Linked DNA regions of Homo sapiens. The protein of the gene in region 1 interacts with the protein of each later gene in a pairwise test. Each region holds a gene or a part of one and is shown in the gene's direction. Other genes may lie near its edges.

Evidence for each region. The genes of interacting proteins can lie anywhere in the genome.
Region 2: the proteins of DRC4 (region 1) and ZNF212 interact in binary tests that used the Homo sapiens proteins (3 or more experiments, as listed by UniProt).

What each region holds. Positions count from the first base shown.
Region 1 is NC_000016.10:90,035,831-90,040,117, forward strand, and holds part of DRC4 (dynein regulatory complex subunit 4), read left to right. Parts: intron 1-550; coding exon 551-756; intron 757-1,401; coding exon 1,402-1,569; intron 1,570-1,931; coding exon 1,932-2,018; intron 2,019-3,930; exon of another isoform or gene 3,931-4,287. UniProt on the Homo sapiens protein: Component of the nexin-dynein regulatory complex (N-DRC), a key regulator of ciliary/flagellar motility which maintains the alignment and integrity of the distal axoneme and regulates microtubule sliding in motile axonemes.
Region 2 is NC_000007.14:149,249,258-149,252,878, forward strand, and holds part of ZNF212 (zinc finger protein 212), read left to right. Parts: intron 1-901; coding exon 902-1,291; intron 1,292-1,423; coding exon 1,424-1,550; intron 1,551-3,448; coding exon 3,449-3,538; intron 3,539-3,621.

The sequences.
Region 1 (4,287 bases):
TTCCAAGGCCAGTGGACCCACTCAGAATCCCAGAACAACCTATTTCCATGTGAGTTTGGGAGGCTGTGATTACCACACACATTCCCACTCCTAGCTAAAATCAGTAGTTATCAGCAGGTGGTAGCTATTCAGTGCCGTGGGCAGCCTTCTTAAAATAGTCTTCTCCATGGCTCCTGGTCTGAGAAGGCTCCAATTTCAGAAGTCTCTGTGTTTTACTAATAAAGGCTGATTGTGGCTGGGTGGCCACACAGGCCTCGGTTACTGCTCACTGGGGTCAGCTGACATTCAGCTGTTGGCACCCCCAGTGCAGGGAGCGATTAGCAATGCCTGTCACTGGCAAAGGCAGGCCGACAGTGGTGTGTGTGCTGAGTGTGAGCATCAGCAGAAAAACTCAGTCTAAACCCCTTTGTTCTTCTCTTGCAGAGCTTTTGCCTGCAAGGCTGTTCTGACCACAGTGGGCGTTTTGGGCCCGTTTACAGGCTCCATGTTCTGTAGCCGTAGGGGCACCACGTCTTCCTCTGCTAAGCTGCTGTTTGCTGCTGCCTTTCAGAAATTGAGGCCAAGTATGATAAGAAGATGAAGATGCTGAGGGACGAACTCGACTTGCGGAGAAAGACTGAGCTCCACGAAGTGGAGGAGAGGAAGAATGGCCAGATCCACACGCTGATGCAGCGCCACGAGGAGGCCTTCACCGACATTAAGAACTACTACAACGACATCACCCTCAACAACCTGGCCCTCATCAACTCCCTCAAGGTGCTGTGCGTGGGCTGGGCTGGGGAGGCACACTCTGCCTGTCCTAGAATGTGGGCTGCAGAGTCCTGGGGATCCAGACCCCAGCTCTCCACCCCAACACACCCAGTACTTTTTATAAGATTGTTTGACAATGCCCCTCTCATATCCTTAACTGAAATTCCTAAATAACGTAACCTATCTCTACCTATTGTTAAAAGCAGTCAGGATATTGCCCTCACCGTAGTGCAGAGGGGGAAGTAATGAAGTGTGTTCTGGTTTGTAAAAGCTCAGATGGAACCGCAGTGAGGGCCGTGATGTGGCTGGAGTGGATAGGTGTCATAGTCACTGCCTGCGACAGGTGGATAGGTGTCATCGTCACTGCATGCTGGCAGTGACAGGATTTTCTACAGTAGACAACGGCCCTTGGTGGAATCTTGAACAAAGTATAGTCCTTCAGTCTGCATGGAAGCTGCATTCCCAGAAAACTCAGAATAAGTTGAAGCTGCAGAAATACTGTTTATACATAGAAGACGTCTAGGTGCCAGCATGCCTGAGGCTGGCAGCAGCTGGTGATGGGCAGGAGAGCACCCAGCTCTCACCATGCAGGCCACAGCCCCTTTGGTTCTGCCTGCTGAGCCCCTGCCGGGCCTGTGCTTGTGCCTGCAGGAGCAGATGGAGGACATGCGGAAGAAGGAGGACCACCTGGAGAGGGAGATGGCAGAGGTGTCTGGGCAGAACAAGCGCCTGGCAGACCCTCTCCAGAAGGCTCGGGAGGAGATGAGCGAGATGCAGAAACAGCTCGCAAACTACGAGAGGGACAAGCAGATCCTGCTTGTGAGTTTCCCGCTGGATTCCTCTCCCTCCTTGGCATGAGCTTGCCTAGGCTCAGGAGGGAGGAGCATCACAGGGAGGGGCTTGGCCCTTAGGGCAGGAAGGGAGACGGGGAGGCCTGCATTTCTCCTTTCTCTGCCTCGTGTTCTCCTGGGGAAAGTAAAGTCTGGGGGTGTTTTGGAGACAAGGCCCTCATCTTCACCACGTGCTACCGGCCGGCCTTGGTGAGACTCAGCTGCTTGTGTCCTGGAACCAGGTCTTTCTGGCGATTATTTTTGGCCTTGCCATCTCCCAGGAGCCCGTGTTACTTGGATGACTGTGAATCTTGAATACTTTCTGTCCCCTACTCCCTGTTTTTCCTCCAGTGCACAAAAGCCCGTTTGAAAGTCAGGGAGAAAGAGCTGAAAGACCTGCAGTGGGAGCATGAAGTGTTAGAGCAGCGATTCACCAAGGTGAGTGGCACCACGCTGGCCCTGCAGTTGGCGGTGGGTGTTAGAGCAACGGTTCACCAAGTTCACCAAGGTGAGCGGGCACTAGGCTGGCCCTGCAGTGGGGATGGCACCCCTGCTAGCCAGGGACGGGGCTCTCCTTGTGGCCCCTGGACCAGCTTCAGATGCCTTGGCCAGGTTTCTGGGTTCTGAAGCTGGAGGCCCTGTTCCCTGTAACTCATTCCGCAGCTTCTAAGAGGCAAAAACCTGTGGCCTGTTCTGCATGCATATTCTGCAGAAGGCCTGGGGTCTTGATGGGGAACGGATCACACATGACTTTCGTCCCCTCGAGAGCTCACCTCTGAAAGCACATGAGGGAGGCTCTTAAGTGTAAGTGAAGATGAGTCTCCGGCTGCTCAGTGCTGGTCCTCACACTGGCGAGTTTTATGGGCTCCCTTCCAGGTTTCCTGCATGCTCTCGTGTGGATGTGACTTTGTATGTTACGAACACGGGATCAGGCCATAAGCACAATTTGCTTTTTAATCTCACAGTGTATCAGGCTGCACATAGGAAGCGGTCTCATCCTTTTCACAGCTGCTTGGTGCTGCGTTTTGTGAACGTTTGATCATTTAGCCGACTCCCGTCTGTTTCTAATGCTCTGCTGCTATAAGCATTGCTGCCTCAATCCTTTTAAATTTGTCTTTGTGCACTTGTGTGAGATTGCTTCTTAGGAAAGCCAGTTCCTAGCAGTGGGATTGTTGAGTCTGAGGGTTCTGTTCTGAGGACCCTGATCATCTGTCCAGAGGGCTGCTCTGAGTCACACACCTGCCAGGGTGCGGAGGGGCCGTTTCCATCCTCACCTGCACCAGATCTGACAGGTTTAAACCTTTGCAGAAGTGACTGGGTGGAAAACATCTCATTTCGTGGGCACTTCCAAGATTCGCAGTGAGTGGTAGGGGTGCTCGGTCCTGTCTCTGTCCCTTAAAGACGCTCCTTGCCTCTGTTCAGTTTCAAAGTTCTGGCCAAGGACCAATCCCTGCAGCATGGGCCCCTCAAGGCTTTGTCTGTGGTGTGCGGGGCCAGGGCATCTTATCTTGAGCCGCAGTTATATGTGCTGTTTTGTTCTCTAACCTAATTGAAATTTTTGAACACAAACCGTTGTAGTGGGATTCGCTTCTCAGAAATATCCCATCTGTCTGTCAGATCTAGCCCCACCTTCAGAGACACCTCAGGTCCTGCACGACGTGCATTGCTAGGCTGTGCCAACTCTTGGCACCTAAGGGAAGGGCACCTGCAAGGTAGTCAGTGAGATCCTGAGGACTGCTGTGTTAGACAAGGGGCCCTTCCTTCTCCCTGTGGGTTTTGAGGTGGACATTATTGGGAAGAGGACAGCAGAGACGTGCCTGGGTTGGAGCCTTGTTTTCTGTCACATTTTCTTCCATTTGAATGTGGTTCCTGACAGTGTCCAAGCTGGTGTCTCTTCCTAGAGAACCGAGAGCTCAAATTTATCAGCAAAATTTAGAGACCAAGGCAGTTATTTATTTATTTATTTATTTATTTATTTATTTATTTATTTTTGAGATGGAGTTTCGCTCTTGTTGCCCAGGCTGGAGTACAATGGCACGATCTCGGCTCACTGCAACCTCCACCTCCTGGGTTCAAGTGATACTCCTGCCTCGGCCTCCCGAGTAGCTGGGATTACAGGCGCCTGCCACCACGCCCGGCTAATGTTTGGTATTTCTGATAGAGACAGGGTTTCACTCTGTTGGCCAGGCTGGTCTCGAACTCCTGACCTCAGGCGATCCACCCACCTCACCCTCCCAAAGTGCTGGGATTACAGGCGTGAGCCACCACACGCTGCTCAGGGTGTTCACTTTTTTATAGTCTTCAACAAAGTCTAGATTTTTTTAGAATGCACAATTAATAAGTAGAAGAATTAGGAGATAAAAAAGAACAGTTTTACTGGCTGGCAGGTAGCTGGCTCCAAGGCCGTGCTCCAGATCCACCATTTGTGGGGCGGACAGCACATGTGATGCCAGGATCTGGGGCTGGCCAAGGGAGCATATCCTCCAAGGGGCCCCACCTGCAAGCTCGGCCTGCTGGATGCCCTGGATCTCAAATCTCACCTGAGCCCACAGCCCTCACTCGGGCAAGACTGGCCTCGGCCACCCATGAAGCAGCTTTCAGGGTGGGGCTGCTTCAGCTCTTACCAGGACACTTATGGCTTCCAGAGACACCTTCCTGAGAGAAGGGCTTATGCTGATGTGTTCCTCCTGCCTTCCACTGCGTGGAT
Region 2 (3,621 bases), on another chromosome or scaffold:
ATTTATTCACCATCCCAGCTGCTAGAGTGCAAAGATGAATGAATTAGGTCTTGTAGGTCCTGCTAAGGAATTTTGTCTTTATTGTGGGGAGCCATTGAAAGTTTTCAAACGGGTGACATGATCAACTATGAAGTCTGGCAGGGATGTGGAAGCAAGATAAGATGTAAGTGACATCTTTTATCATATAGTCCAAAACATTAAATAAAAATAGGTTTAAAAATGAACACTGATACAGGAGTCTCAGAGAATATGCTAAGCATAAAGCATAGGTAACAGAACATACACGCTATAATTTCACTTTTGTTGAAAAAAAATAAACTAAAAGATGAAAAAAAACTTTAGAAATACACCAAAATTCAAACAGCTTCTTTCTTTCTTTTTCTTTTTTGAGACAGGGTCTCACTCTGTTACTCAGGCTGGAGTGCACTGGCACGATCTTGGCTCACTGTAGCCTCAACCTCCTGGGCTCAAACCGTCCTCCCACCTCAGTGCCCCAAGTACCTGGGACTACAGGCATGCATCACCATGCCTGGCTAATTTTTTGAACTTTTTTGTAGAGACAGGGTTTGCCTTGTTGGCCAGGCTGGTGTCAAACTCCTGAGCTAAAGTGATTCAGCTGCCTTGGCCTCCCAAAGTGCTGGGATTACAGTTGTGAGCCACCACGGCCAGCCCTAACAGCTTATTGTGTGTGAGAAGATTTTGTGTAATATTTTCTTTCTATTCTTCATCATTTTCCAACATTATTAATACAATATCTATGTATAATTTTTAGTATCAATAAAAGACATGCTTTTTTTTAATTAAAAGAAACTAGATAACTCTGAGCACTGATACACTTGAACACTGCTTTCTTTACTTGATGTTTGGAAGTGACATTGACCCTGTGTCTTTAATCCATCAGCACAGGAGAAAACGACGCTCCACACCTTTAACTTCTTCCACACTTCCTTCACAAGCAACAGAGAAAAGCTCCTATTTTCAGACCACCGAGATTTCACTCTGGACGGTGGTGGCCGCTATTCAGGCTGTGGAGAAGAAGATGGAGTCCCAGGCTGCCCGGCTACAGAGCCTGGAGGGGCGCACGGGGACAGCCGAGAAGAAGCTGGCTGACTGCGAGAAGATGGCCGTGGAGTTCGGGAACCAGCTGGAGGGCAAGTGGGCCGTGCTGGGGACCCTGCTGCAGGAGTATGGGCTACTGCAGAGGCGGCTGGAGAACGTGGAGAACCTGCTGCGCAACAGGAACTTCTGGATCCTGCGGCTGCCCCCGGGCAGCAAGGGGGAGGCCCCCAAGGTAGTCTCATTGAGGATTAAAAGTTAGAAGAGAAGGGGGAGCCAGCCCTTTAATATGTAAGCACCTCAGTTGCTGGCTTTTCTGTCATAGCTGTGAGTAGAAGCACTCATGGTGTGCCATTGGTGATTCCAGGTGTCCAGGTCACTGGAGAATGATGGCGTCTGTTTCACCGAGCAGGAATGGGAGAATCTGGAGGATTGGCAGAAGGAGCTCTACAGAAACGTGATGGAGAGTAACTATGAGACACTGGTCTCTCTGAGTGAGTAGCAGTTTTCTCCCTAGAATTCTGTCTCAGACATACTACAATTCCTGGCTGGCAGCCTGTAATTCAGACCACACCTGTGGCTCCTGTGGCTGTGGGTCCTCTGTCGGCCTGCACGGGCAGAGAAATGCCAGTCTCTAGGTCCTCCCATTTACAGACCTGCACGGGTGGAGAAATGCCAGTCTCTAGGTCCTCCCATTTACAGAGACTTTTGGAAAGCTCGCAGCATTGTGCCTTTTGTGTTTTTTTTTTTTTTTTCCTGTGGTCACATAGTCTGTTCTTGATAGTATTTTCTAATAAATAAAATGTCATATACCCTATAGTGTGATATGGCTAGGGTTCCTCATGTTGTTTTTTAATTTATTTTATCTTTTTTTTTTCTTTTTTTCTTTGAGACAGAGTCTTGCTCTATTGCCCAGGCTGGAGTGCAGTGGCACAATCTTGGCTCACTGCAACCTCTGCCTCACAGGTTCAAGCGATTCTCCTGCCTCAGCCTCTCGAGTAGCTGAAATTACAGGTGACTGCCACCACGCCCAGCTAATTTTTGTATTTTTAGTAGAAATGGGGTTTCACCATGTTGGCCAAGCTGGTCTTGAACTCCTGACCTCGTGATCTGCCCACCTCAGCCCCCCAAAGTGCTAGGATTACAGGTGTGAGCCACTGCGTCTGGCCTGTTTTATCTTTTTTTTTTTTTTTTTTTTTTTTGAGACTCTGTCACCTAGGCTGGAGTGCAGTGGTACGATCTCGGCTCACTGCAGCCTTGACAGCTTGGGCTCAAATGATTCTCCCACCTCAGTTTTCCGAGTAGCTGGGATTACAGGCACATGCCACTGCGCCTGGCTAATTTTTTAAATTTTTTGTAGAGACGTGGGTCTTACTGTGTTGCCCAGGCTGGTCTTGAACTTCTGGGCTCAAGTGATCCACCCACGTCGGCCTCCCAAAGTGCAGGGATTACAGGCGTGAGCCTCCGCACCTGGCCTCTCATGCTGTTTTTAATATTTAAGACTATTTGAGATGGGTGTGGTAGCTCACATCTGTAATCCCAACACTTTGGGAGGCCAAGGTGGGAGGATAGCTTGAGGCTAGGAGTTCGAAATCAGCCTGGTCGACATAGTGAGATCTCTGTTGCTTAAAAAAAAAAAAAAAAAAAAAAGATGATTTGATAACCCTATGTTACCTTGGATGAGGCAGGCAGCACAGGCTGATCAAAAGCATTTTCTTGGTGTTTGGCCGGAATTATAGCTGGTCATTGTGGTCTCAGTGATTTTTTCTTGTTGATTAGGAGTGCTGCTTAATAGATATAAGTCTTTATATGCAAAATGTTACCTATTACATAATAAATGTGTTTTGTTTGGTAGACAAAGTCTTTTAAAACCTAGGTACATGGAGGAGTGTCAAGTGCCTGGAGCAGAGTAGGAGGTAAAGGAAATAGAAAATGGGCCAGAAAAGTGACCTTGTAAGCTTGGTTGGGTCACATGCTCTCATTGTGACTGTTTCCTTGTCTGTCCCAGTGCCCATCTTACCTTGCAGTGCCTTAGCAAGGATGAAATTAGATCCCCTGAAAGGAAGCATTGGCAAGACTTAAGCTGCACGCACATGGAGAGGCAGAGGTGGGTGGTGGTGCCATCAAGGGCAGTGGTAGCTCTGTAGCCTGCCTGCCTGAGCCACAGCCCCTCTAATGGAGGAGCACTGGAGGCAGCAGCTAGCCAAGTCAGTTGTTATGATTGGCCAGAATTTTATAATTGTCCCAAACTGCTAGGGGAAACTGACAAGAACAGTAGCCTTTGAATCTATATTTCCTCCCTGCCATTGGTCATCTTGGTCACTGGCAGCTGATCAGTGTGCAGTGAGCTTTCACTCTCTCCTGGGCTCACACTGTGCTGTTTCCCACCCAGAGGTCCTTGGCCAGACAGAGGGAGAAGCGGAGTTGGGTACAGAGATGCTGGGTGACTTGGAAGAGGAAGGTCCTGGTGGTGCCCACCCAGGTGAGTGGCTCTGGAATATTCTGTTCCCCTTCCATAGCCCTCTGTAGCCTAGAGTGAGCTTTCCCACGGCTGAAGTGCCAGGT